Homo sapiens: one gene and its partners. The protein of the gene in region 1 purifies or fractionates together with the protein of each later gene. This does not show direct contact. Each region holds a gene or a part of one and is shown in the gene's direction. Other genes may lie near its edges. The genes, in order: PTPRB, VEGFA and PTPRS.

Evidence for each region.
Region 2: the proteins of PTPRB (region 1) and VEGFA purify together in Homo sapiens (affinity purification with western blotting; one study listed by BioGRID). This does not show direct contact.
Region 3: the proteins of PTPRB (region 1) and PTPRS purify together in Homo sapiens (affinity purification with mass spectrometry; one large-scale study listed by BioGRID and IntAct). This does not show direct contact.

What each region holds. Positions count from the first base shown.
Region 1 is NC_000012.12:70,630,904-70,634,553, reverse strand, and holds part of PTPRB (receptor-type tyrosine-protein phosphatase beta), read left to right. Parts: intron 1-3,650. UniProt on the Homo sapiens protein: Plays an important role in blood vessel remodeling and angiogenesis. Not necessary for the initial formation of blood vessels, but is essential for their maintenance and remodeling. Can induce dephosphorylation of TEK/TIE2, CDH5/VE-cadherin and KDR/VEGFR-2.
Region 2 is NC_000006.12:43,776,644-43,780,293, forward strand, and holds part of VEGFA (vascular endothelial growth factor A, long form), read left to right. Parts: intron 1-825; coding exon 826-1,022; intron 1,023-1,816; coding exon 1,817-1,893; intron 1,894-2,245; coding exon 2,246-2,275; intron 2,276-3,650.
Region 3 is NC_000019.10:5,215,257-5,218,906, reverse strand, and holds part of PTPRS (receptor-type tyrosine-protein phosphatase S isoform 1 precursor), read left to right. Parts: intron 1-108; coding exon 109-120; intron 121-374; coding exon 375-487; intron 488-2,139; coding exon 2,140-2,187; intron 2,188-3,311; coding exon 3,312-3,409; intron 3,410-3,494; coding exon 3,495-3,618; intron 3,619-3,650. UniProt on the Homo sapiens protein: Cell surface receptor that binds to glycosaminoglycans, including chondroitin sulfate proteoglycans and heparan sulfate proteoglycan.

The sequences.
Region 1 (3,650 bases):
TGATGGGTTGATAGGTGCAACAAAGCACCACGGCACACGTTTACCTATGTAACAAATCTGCACACCCTGCACATGTACCCCAAAACTAAAAATAAAAATTTAAAAAAAAATACACATTCCCAGGATTCTTTCCCACCATTTTTTCCTCTACAACCACCTCCAAGATTCTGTTTCAGGAAATCTGGATTTGTGCATAATACTTGATATTTATTAATCACCAGAAAATTTTGATCCATAATCCAATATGGAGATCAGCATCCACTGTATTGTTAAGTCTTTTCCTTAGGTGTTGATTTGTGAGGCTTATATTAGTCTTTCCACCATGGTAATCTTTGGACAATTTTTTCTCACTCATTCATTCTGTAAGTTAAAACAAGCATTTAACTAGATGCCATTTGAATGTGTTATGCTTTTCTACAATAAGTGGTATGCTTTGCTACAATAAAAGTTGAGAGTTATAGTTTCTGTTCTTATATCATTTCTGCCTATGAGAAAAAAACCTACTCAAAAATTCAACTTTATCAGAAAATATTCAGCATATAGCACCAATTTGTACAATACCTTTCCTGTGGTTCATCTATCAAGGCCTCTCCTAAATAATATAGAAACATTATAACTGTTCCATTTTTACTGTTTTACACAAGAAGTGAGATTCATCCCCAAACCCCAATCAAACCTTATTTAACATAAGATTACTTAGTTGGAACTTTAAAAAAAAGTAGATATGGACTCAGTGGTGAGTTATTCAAGATAAAAGATAATTCATAGAAAAACTACCTCCTATGACCCTCATACAAATATGTCTAGTAATAGACTTCGAAAATAAGGTAACTAGAATAAGCCATTTGCAATTAACCACTGAACAATGCTATATTCAAAAAATGCCTGATAATATGTGTTGGGGAAAGAAATTAATTTCTAGAAAAAGCAGAAGTTAAAATTTGCACAATTGTGGTACAAAAACACCCTTATATTTGAGTACACATAAGTATAACACATACTTTTGCTTTAACACAATTATAAGCTAACAGATATATTTTTCTGCTCCATCTTAAATATGCCATTGTGGGGTTTTTTCTTTTTGTTTTTGTTTTTTCTTTGGTTTTTGTTTTTAGAAACAAAGTCTTGCTCTGTTGCCCAGGCAGGAGAGCCATGGTGTGATCATAGCTCAATGTAGCCTCCAACTCCTGGGCTCAAGTGATCCTCCCACCTCAGCCTCCCAAAGTACTGGGATTACAGGCATGAATCACCATGCCCAGCCCTGATAAAAGTTTAAGAATAATACTTGTAGACCTATATCATGAGAGCTCACTGACTTGCTAGAGTAGCTACTGTGAAAAATTAACCGAAATGCATTCATATGTTTGCAATGAGTGATTTCAAATCATTGTTTAAGTTGGTAACTAAGTATTATAATCTACAGCAGCACAAATACATGTGTTGTTCATCTATGGGATGTGAATTTTTTTGTGTGTTCTTCCATGAAAGAAAGCAGACCTATGAAGGTAAAAATCTAAGCCACATGTTTCATATTTGTTTCATAAAAGACACATTAATGATTGTATTCAAGTTTCCAGGTAATATTTATTTAACACCTACTATGTGCCAGAGCTTGTGCTAGCACTCAGGTACCCTGTGCTAGTACTAAGGTGCCCTCCACAAGTGATTTTTGACCCAAGCTGCATATTAGACTCACATGGCAGCTTTTAACTAATACTAGAGTATAAAACCTGAGCTTTATCCTCTAAGCTGACTAAATGAGGTATTGTATTTTTAAAGTACTTCCTAGGTGATTCTGATGTGCAGCCAAGGTTGCAAATCATTAAATACATCTTATTCCTTAAAGTAATGGGGAAATCAGATAAGTAAATAAATAGGTAATTACAATAGAATGTAGAGAGAAGAAAGTACTTTCCTTTCCAATATATGTCCTTGCCAGTATGTCACATTAAGCACTCATTCCTTTTTTTTTTTTAATTATACTTTAAGTTCTAGGGTGCATGTGCACAATGTGCAGGTTTGTTACATAGGTATACGTGTGCCATGTTGGTTTGCTGCACTCATCAACTCGTCATTTACACTAGGCATTTCTCCCAGTGCTATCCTTCCCCCAGTCCCCCACCCCCCGACAGGACCCAGTGTGTGATGTCTCCTGCCCTGTGTCCAAGTGTTCTCGTTGTTCAATTTCCACCTATGAGTGGTACACGCGGTGTTTGGTTTTCTGTCCTTGTGATAGTTTGCTGAGAATGATGGTTTCCAGCTTCATCCATGTCCCTGCAAATGACATGAACTCATCATTTTTTATGGCTGCAATAGTATTCCATGGTGTATATGTGCCACATTTTCTTAATCTAGTCTACCATTGATGGACATTTGGGTTGGTTCCAAGTCTTTGCTATTGTGAATAGTGCCACAATAAATATACACGTGCATGTGTCTTTATAGTAGCTTGATTTATAATCCTTTGAGTATATACCCAGTAATGCAATCACTGGGTCAAATGGTATTTCTAGTTCTAGATCCTTGAAGAATCACCACACTGTCTTCCACAGTGGTTGAACTAGTTTACACTCCTACCAACAGTGTAAGTGTTCCAATTTCTCCACATCCTCTCCAGCATCTGTTGTTTCCTGACTTTTTAATGATTGCCATTCTAACTGGCAAGAGATGGTATCTCATTGTGGTTTTGATTTGCATTTCTCTGATGACCAGTGATGATAAGCATTTTTTCATGTGTCTGTTGGCTGCATAAATGTCTTCTTTTTAGAAGTGTCTGTTCATATCCTTTGCCCACTTTTTGATGGGGTTGTTTGTTTTTTTCTTGTAAATTTGTTTAAGTTCTTTGTAGATTCTGGATATTAGCCCTTTGTCATATGGGTAGATTGCAAAAATTTTCTCCCATTCTGTAGGTTGCCTGTTCACTCTGATGGTAGTTTCTTCTGCTGTGCAGAAGCTCTTTAGTTTAATTAGATCCCATTTGTCTATTTTGGCTTTTGTTGCCATTGCTTTTGGTGTTTTAGTCATGAGGTGTTTGCCCATGCCTATGTCCTGAATGGTATTGCCTAGGTTTTCTTCTAGGGTTTTTATGGTTTTAGGTCTAACATTTAAGTCTTTAATCCATCTTGAATTGATTTTTGTATAAGGTGTAAGGAAGGGATCCAGTTTCAGCTTTCTACATATGGCTAGCCAGTTTTCCCAGCTCCATTTATTAAATAGGGAATCCTTTCCCCATTGCTTGTTTTTGTCAGGTTTGTCAAAGATCAGATGGTTGTAGATGTGCGGTATTATTTCTGAGGGCTCTGTTCGGTTCCATTGGTCTATATCTCTGTTTTGGTACCAGTACCATGCTGTTTTGGTTACTGTAGCCTTGTAGTATGGTTTGAAGTCAGGTAGTGTGATGCCTCCAGCTTTGTTCTTTTTGCTTAGGATTGTCTTGGCTATGTGGGCTCTTTTTTGGTTCCATATGAACTTTAAAGTAGTTTTTTCCAATTCTGTGAAGAAAGTCATTGGTAGCTTGATGGGAATGGCATTGAATCTATAAATTACCTTGGGCAGTATGGCCATTTTCACGATATTGATTCTTCCTATCCATGAGCATGGAATGTTCTTCCATGTGTTTGTGTCCTCTTTTATTTCGTTGAGCAGTGGTT
Region 2 (3,650 bases), on another chromosome or scaffold:
GCGTGTCCGCCCACTGCCACCTGTGGGTTCCAGGAGGGCCCAGCCCCTGTGCTGATGCCCACCACCTTCTCAGCTCATGTCTGGGGAAGAGGACTGGCAGGGGGAAAGGTGCCTCCTCCTGAAAGGTGCCTCCTCTGTTTTTGCCTAATATAGGCTTGGGAACACTTTGATGTCAGCTAATTCTGACTCCTTTACTTACTAGCTGTGCGGCCTTGGGGCAACTTACTTAGCCTCTTTGAGCCTCCTGTTCCCCATCTGTAAAATGGAATCTCAATAGTGTCTAATAGTACCATGTGGAGAAACTTGTGTGAAATGATAGCTGTGGACTACTGTACACAGTACTCAGGATGTAGTAAGTGCTCAATAAACAGCTGTTGGTATGGTTGACGTTATGGTAGTGGTTGTGGGGAGGACGTAGGAAACTGGAGACTAGCTTGGCAAAGCTGGCTCTTCCTCCTTTTAGGGAAAGCTTAGAGCATCCCCATGGGGTATACCCATACTCAGACTGTCCTCTGGCATCGAGGTTGGCCCAGGATTCAGTTCAGCTGTCACAGTGAGGTGGCGGGATCAGATGTGGCAGGCCATGTCCCTTGGAACTTGAGTACATCGTGTGATCTCTGGAATGAAAACAGGCCTTCACCAGTGTTGATGGTGGAAAGCTTAGGGAAGTGCTTCAAACACAGTAGGAGGGACTTACGTTAGATTTTGGAAGGACTTGCCTGATTCGGAAGCTCCAAAGAGTGGCATTACAGAGCTGGGTGGAGAGAGGGGCTAGCCATCTTTTGTGTCGCCCACCGGGCTCATGTGTCATCGCCTCTCATGCAGTGGTGAAGTTCATGGATGTCTATCAGCGCAGCTACTGCCATCCAATCGAGACCCTGGTGGACATCTTCCAGGAGTACCCTGATGAGATCGAGTACATCTTCAAGCCATCCTGTGTGCCCCTGATGCGATGCGGGGGCTGCTGCAATGACGAGGGCCTGGAGTGTGTGCCCACTGAGGAGTCCAACATCACCATGCAGGTGGGCATCTTTGGGAAGTGGGGCAAGGGGGGGATAGGGAGGGGGGTAACACTTTGGGAACAGGTGGTCCCAGGTCGTTTCCTGGCTAGATTTGCCTTGTCTGGCTCCTGCCCCTGAGTTGCACAGGGGAGGTATGGTGGGGTCTTGCCTTCTGTGGAGAAGATGCTTCATTCCCAGCCCAGGTTCCCAGCAAGCCCCAACCATCTCCTTCTCCCTGATGGTTGCCCATGGGCTCAGGAGGGGACAGATGGATGCCTGTGTCAGGAGCCCCTCTCTCCCTCTCTTGGAGAGAGTCCTGAGTGCCCCCCCTTCTTGGGGGCTTTGTTTGGGAAGCTGGATGAGCCTGGTCCATGGAGAGTTTAAAAAGTCTTTTGGTGTTACCTGGTAATGGGGCACATCTCAGCCCAGATAGGGTGGGAGGGAGCTGTGAAACACAGGGAGGGGGTTGCTTTCGGGTATCTACTAGGAGTCAGGGTGAAGCCTAGAGAGGATGAAAGAAGGGGAGGGGATGGGGAGTGGTAAGAACCTAGGATTTGAATTCCCAGCCTGGCCAACCCTTGCAGCCATGTCTTGGCCTCAAGTGGAACAAGGGCTCCTTGAGGCCAGCAGGGTTGGGGGAGTTGGGGTGGGCCTGAGCCTCTTTCCTGCTAGAGCTCTTGGTCCTCCCTGCCTCCACCACCCATCCCTGCTCTGCAGAACCCCTGGGTGCTGAGTGGCAGGAGCCCCAGGGTTGTCCCATCTGGGTATGGCTGGCTGGGTCACTAACCTCTGTGATCTGCTTCCTTCCTTTCCAGATTATGCGGATCAAACCTCACCAAGGCCAGCACATAGGAGAGATGAGCTTCCTACAGCACAACAAATGTGAATGCAGGTGAGGATGTAGTCACGGATTCATTATCAGCAAGTGGCTGCAGGGTGCCTGATCTGTGCCAGGGTTAAGCATGCTGTACTTTTTGGCCCCCGTCCAGCTTCCCGCTATGTGACCTTTGGCATTTTACTTCAATGTGCCTCAGTTTCTACATCTGTAAAATGGGCACAATAGTAGTATACTTCATAGCATTGTTATAATGATTAAACAAGTTATATATGAAAAGATTAAAACAGTGTTGCTCCATAATAAATGCTGTTTTTACTGTGATTATTATTGTTGTTATCCCTATCATTATCATCACCATCTTAACCCTTCCCTGTTTTGCTCTTTTCTCTCTCCCTACCCATTGCAGACCAAAGAAAGATAGAGCAAGACAAGAAAAGTAAGTGGCCCTGACTTTAGCACTTCTCCCTCTCCATGGCCGGTTGTCTTGGTTTGGGGCTCTTGGCTACCTCTGTTGGGGGCTCCCATAGCCTCCCTGGGTCAGGGACTTGGTCTTGTGGGGGACTTGTGGTGGCAGCAACAATGGGATGGAGCCAACTCCAGGATGATGGCTCTAGGGCTAGTGAGAAAACATAGCCAGGAGCCTGGCACTTCCTTTGGAAGGGACAATGCCTTCTGGGTCTCCAGATCATTCCTGACCAGGACTTGCTGTTTCGGTGTGTCAGGGGGCACTGTGGACACTGGCTCACTGGCTTGCTCTAGGACACCCACAGTGGGGAGAGGGAGTGGGTGGCAGAGAGGCCAGCTTTTGTGTGTCAGAGGAAATGGCCTCTTTTGGTGGCTGCTGTGACGGTGCAGTTGGATGCGAGGCCGGCTGGAGGGTGGTTTCTCAGTGCATGCCCTCCTGTAGGCGGCAGGCGGCAGACACACAGCCCTCTTGGCCAGGGAGAAAAAGTTGAATGTTGGTCATTTTCAGAGGCTTGTGAGTGCTCCGTGTTAAGGGGCAGGTAGGATGGGGTGGGGGACAAGGTCTGGCGGCAGTAACCCTTCAAGACAGGGTGGGCGGCTGGCATCAGCAAGAGCTTGCAGGGAAAGAGAGACTGAGAGAGAGCACCTGTGCCCTGCCCTTTCCCCCACACCATCTTGTCTGCCTCCAGTGCTGTGCGGACATTGAAGCCCCCACCAGGCCTCAACCCCTTGCCTCTTCCCTCAGCTCCCAGCTTCCAGAGCGAGGGGATGCGGAAACCTTCCTTCCACCCTTTGGTGCTTTCTCCTAAGGGGGACAGACTTGCCCTCTCTGGTCCCTTCTCCCCCTCCTTTCTTCCCTGTGACAGACATCCTGAGGTGTGTTCTCTTGGGCTTGGCAGGCATGGAGAGCTCTGGTTCTCTTGAAGGGGACAGGCTACAGCCTGCCCCCCTTCCTGTTTCCCCAAATGACTGCTCTGCCATGGGGAGAGTAGGGGGCTCGCCTGGGCTCGGAAGAGTGTCTGGTGAGATGGTGTAGCAGGCTTTGACAGGCTGGGGAGAGAACTCCCTGCCAAGTACCGCCCAAGCCTCTCCTCCCCAGACCTCCTTAACTCCCACCCCATCCTGCTGCCTGCCCAGGGCTCCAGGACACCCAGCCCTGCCTCCCAGTCCAGGTCGTGCTGAGCAGGCTGGTGTTGCTCTTGGTTCCGTGCCAGCTCCCAAGGTAGCCGCTTCCCCCACACCGGGATTCCCAGAGGTTCTGTCGCAGTTGCAAATGAAGGCACAAGGCCTGATACACAGCCCTCCCTCCCACTCCTGCTCCCCATCCAGGCAGGTCTCTGACCTTC
Region 3 (3,650 bases), on another chromosome or scaffold:
AGGTTAAGGAAGGCACTGAGAGTCACAGAACAAGCCCTTGATGGCCGGCACACCCTCACCTTTCTTCTTTTTTTCCCCCTTCTCACCTGTGTCTGCTTTCGGGAACAGCAAACCCGACAGGTAAGAACCAGCCCTCCCCCGTGGAGGCTTCAGGCAAGAGGAAGAGGACAGGGAATGGGCTGATAGTGTGCCCACAGGAGAGGGGATGCCCGGCTGCCCCCACAGCTTGTACACGTAGCTGTACTTGGTCCTGGAAACCCTAGTCATACGGGTCCATGGTCCTTTTCTTACCATGCATTCCTGGGGCCTGAATTGTGTTCACACATGAACATGTGCCACTACTAACTGGACTGTTCCGCTTGCTTCTCCTAAAGTAAACGCAAGGACTCAGAACCCCGCACCAAATGCCTCCTGAACAATGCCGACCTCGCCCCTCACCACCCCAAGGACCCTGTGGAAATGAGACGCATTAACTTCCAGACTCCAGGTATGTACTTATCCCTGGTACCAGGGATGCCACCAACAGGGGAGATAGCTGGGGAGAAGCAGTAGCTGCCACCCTGGGGGCCCCTCATTGGCCCCCTCTGAACTATGCTTGGTGCAGCCACATTCTGGATTCCCAAATACCTCCAACCCTACATGGATCTGGGCTTGGAACTCATAGGTTGGTTCTGCTTACAACCAAGTGAGGCTTTTTTTTTTTTAAAGTTAACATTTAACCAATGGCTGCTGTCCTCTTCAGGAGCCTAAAGACGATGTTTAAAAAATGGAGAAAACACAAATAAACCCCTCATTTCTTTGGGCAGAAAGAGCTATTCTTCTGTTTATGTCTCTGGTTTTAATGTTCCTCGGTGGTGGGAGTTGAGGTTTGCCCTCAGCCATTTTCCACACTCCCTTGGGATATATCCCTAGCAAGGTACAGAAATTATACCTGCCCAATGCCCTGTACCTCTTCCCACCATGGCTGCCAGGGTTCATGCCTCTTTATAGTTCCCTGTAGATTAAAGTCACCTGACAGTCCAGGAGAACTGAATCAAGGCCTTATCCTTGATCATTTTCATGTATGATTCACAAACTCTACCATCTCCTCCCTCTTCATGGGCTCATGCCAGCTGCTTCTAACCAAATAAGGAATTTTTCATTTTACTGATGGCTGCTATTCTCCTTATGGGTTCACAGCCAAGTTACATCTGTCCTTCCAACTGTACCCGGTCTCCACTTCGTATCTCTGAACTGGTTCATATCAACTCTATTTTCCAACCAAATGAAGATTTTAAACATTTGTATTTCACTGATGTCTTTAGTCCTCCTTAAAGCCTCATGCATAGCCTCACATGCCATTCCTGATGTACTTTCTTTTTTTTTGTCTCTGGACTGGCTTGTGTCACTTCTGTTTTCATCCAAATGAGGAGTTTGACCATTAGTATTTAACTGATGGCTGCTGTCCTCATAAAGGGATCATGCAGGGCCTCATGTATCACCCCTCGTGTATTCTCTTCCCTTTCTTTCCTCTGTACTGATTCGTGTTGCTTTGGTTTTTCAGCCAAATGAGAATTTTAAATGTGCATGTAACTGACGGCTGCAGTCTCCTGAAGGGATCATGCAGAGTCTCACAATTCACCGCTAATGTGCTCCCATCTCATTTCTGTCTCTGGACTAGCTGATGTCTGTTGTGTTTCCATCCAAATAAGGATTTTCAACATGTGCATTTAACTGATGGTTGCTGTCCTCCTTGAAGCTCATGGCATGGGCCCATATGTCCTTTCCCTGCTCCCCCAGCTTCTCCTTCACCATCCTGCATCCTCCTTCCTCAGAATGCCCTCTGCTGACCTCAACAGAGGGGACCCAAGGCCAGGCTGGTCTGGGGGAGGGGATCTGTAGACAGAAGAACCTAGCACTTTGGAGTCCTTCCAGAGTGACGGGTCAAGACCAGGATTGACTGGTGTCCAGCCAGAGGGGTACACAGTTAGCAGCTATCGTGAGTCCTCAGGTGGGGGCCCAGGTGGCTGTACATACCCCCCGTTGTCCGCGTTGCTCTGCCCTTTGCATCCGCCAGCCAGTGAGGGGTGGGGGAGGCAGAGGTGGGACCCCCCCCTACCCCCTGCATGTTTTCATTTATTTATTGTTTGCTGTTTGCAGATTCAGGCCTCAGGAGCCCCCTCAGGGAGCCGGGGTTTCACTTTGAAAGTTAGTTCTTGTGTCTGTTTTTGGCTTCCTTTCGCCCCCGCCCCCGTTCATTTCCTCTTTGGTTTCTCCATCGTGTCTCCTGTCTCTGTCCACACGCCCACCCATCACCGGCCTTTGCCCACCTGTCTTGTGCTGGCTCCTGGAAGAGGGCAGGGGGTTGGTCCATTGGGCCCTCAGGTGGCTGTGTGTGACTGCTGTGTGTGTGGTGTGTATGTGTGTGTCAGGGATGTGGGTGAGGCACGTATGTACCCAGGACGTGCCCACAGGACAGGCAGGCCCCTTAGATGTGAGCTCTTGGGGGGCACCCAGGACAGCTAGGGACACATGGAAGTCTCAGAACATTAAATGTTACCAGCTGGTCTGGAAACCACCTGAGAGCTGAACATCCGGTACACAGGTCCCAGGAGAGGTCAGGGTTCTGCAGACCCAGATATCGGGAAGGGAGAACCGAGCCCACACCCAGCACCTTCGGCAGCCATCCTAGGGGGCTTGAAAGGATAAGAGCTCTCAGGCCAGGGCCTTCTTGCACCTGCTCCTGCCCCAAGCAAGCGCAGGGACAGATGGGGACCCCTCACTCCTCTCACGTACACACACACATACTGTTTCCCCTCCCTAGTCTGTCGCCTCTACCTGGAAGCGGATTTCGTGCCTCTGATCCCAGAGGGACAGAAAGGGGTGTCAGTCGCCCACCCAAGGACAGTATTTCCAAAGCACAGCCGGCTGCGTCTGCAATTTAATTTCTGTGCCACACACTTGCTTCTTGGCTCGAGGCACTGGGAGCTTGACATCCTCTGGGGTGACCCTTCTGCCAGCCCCTGCACCCCCAGCTTGGTTGGAAGGAAACAGGATGGGCCAATGCTGTGATCCAGGCCCCTCCAGGGGTGTCAGCCTCTGCACGGAGCAGAGGGCCTCAAACCTGCTGCCTTTAGAGTCCCCTAGGCCTGGGGTCCCAGCCCCTTCATGAGCCACCCTGAGTCTTCCCCTCCTGCCAAGCCCCACCCCGGCCATGCCCTTCTAACCACAGCTCACCCATCGCAGACTCACACGTAGATCACCCCCCTCCCCCGAGTCCCCGGCTGGCCCCCCAAGTGACCAACCCCGGCGGGGTCTGCTCCACCCTGTAGGCATGCTTAGCCACCCGCCAATTCCCATCGCAGACATGGCGGAGCACACGGAGCGGCTCAAGGCCAACGACAGCCTCAAGCTCTCCCAGGAGTATGAGGTGAGCCCACCCCCGCCTCCCACCCTCATCACCTCGGCCTCACAGGCACCTACCCTGACACCCGCGCTCTCCCCTTCCTCTGTAGTCCATCGACCCTGGACAGCAGTTCACATGGGAACATTCCAACCTGGAAGTGAACAAGCCGAAGAACCGCTATGCCAACGTCATCGCCTATGACCACTCCCGTGTCATCCTCCAGCCCATTGAAGGTAGTTCGGAGATCCCGGGTCTTAACCTGCCC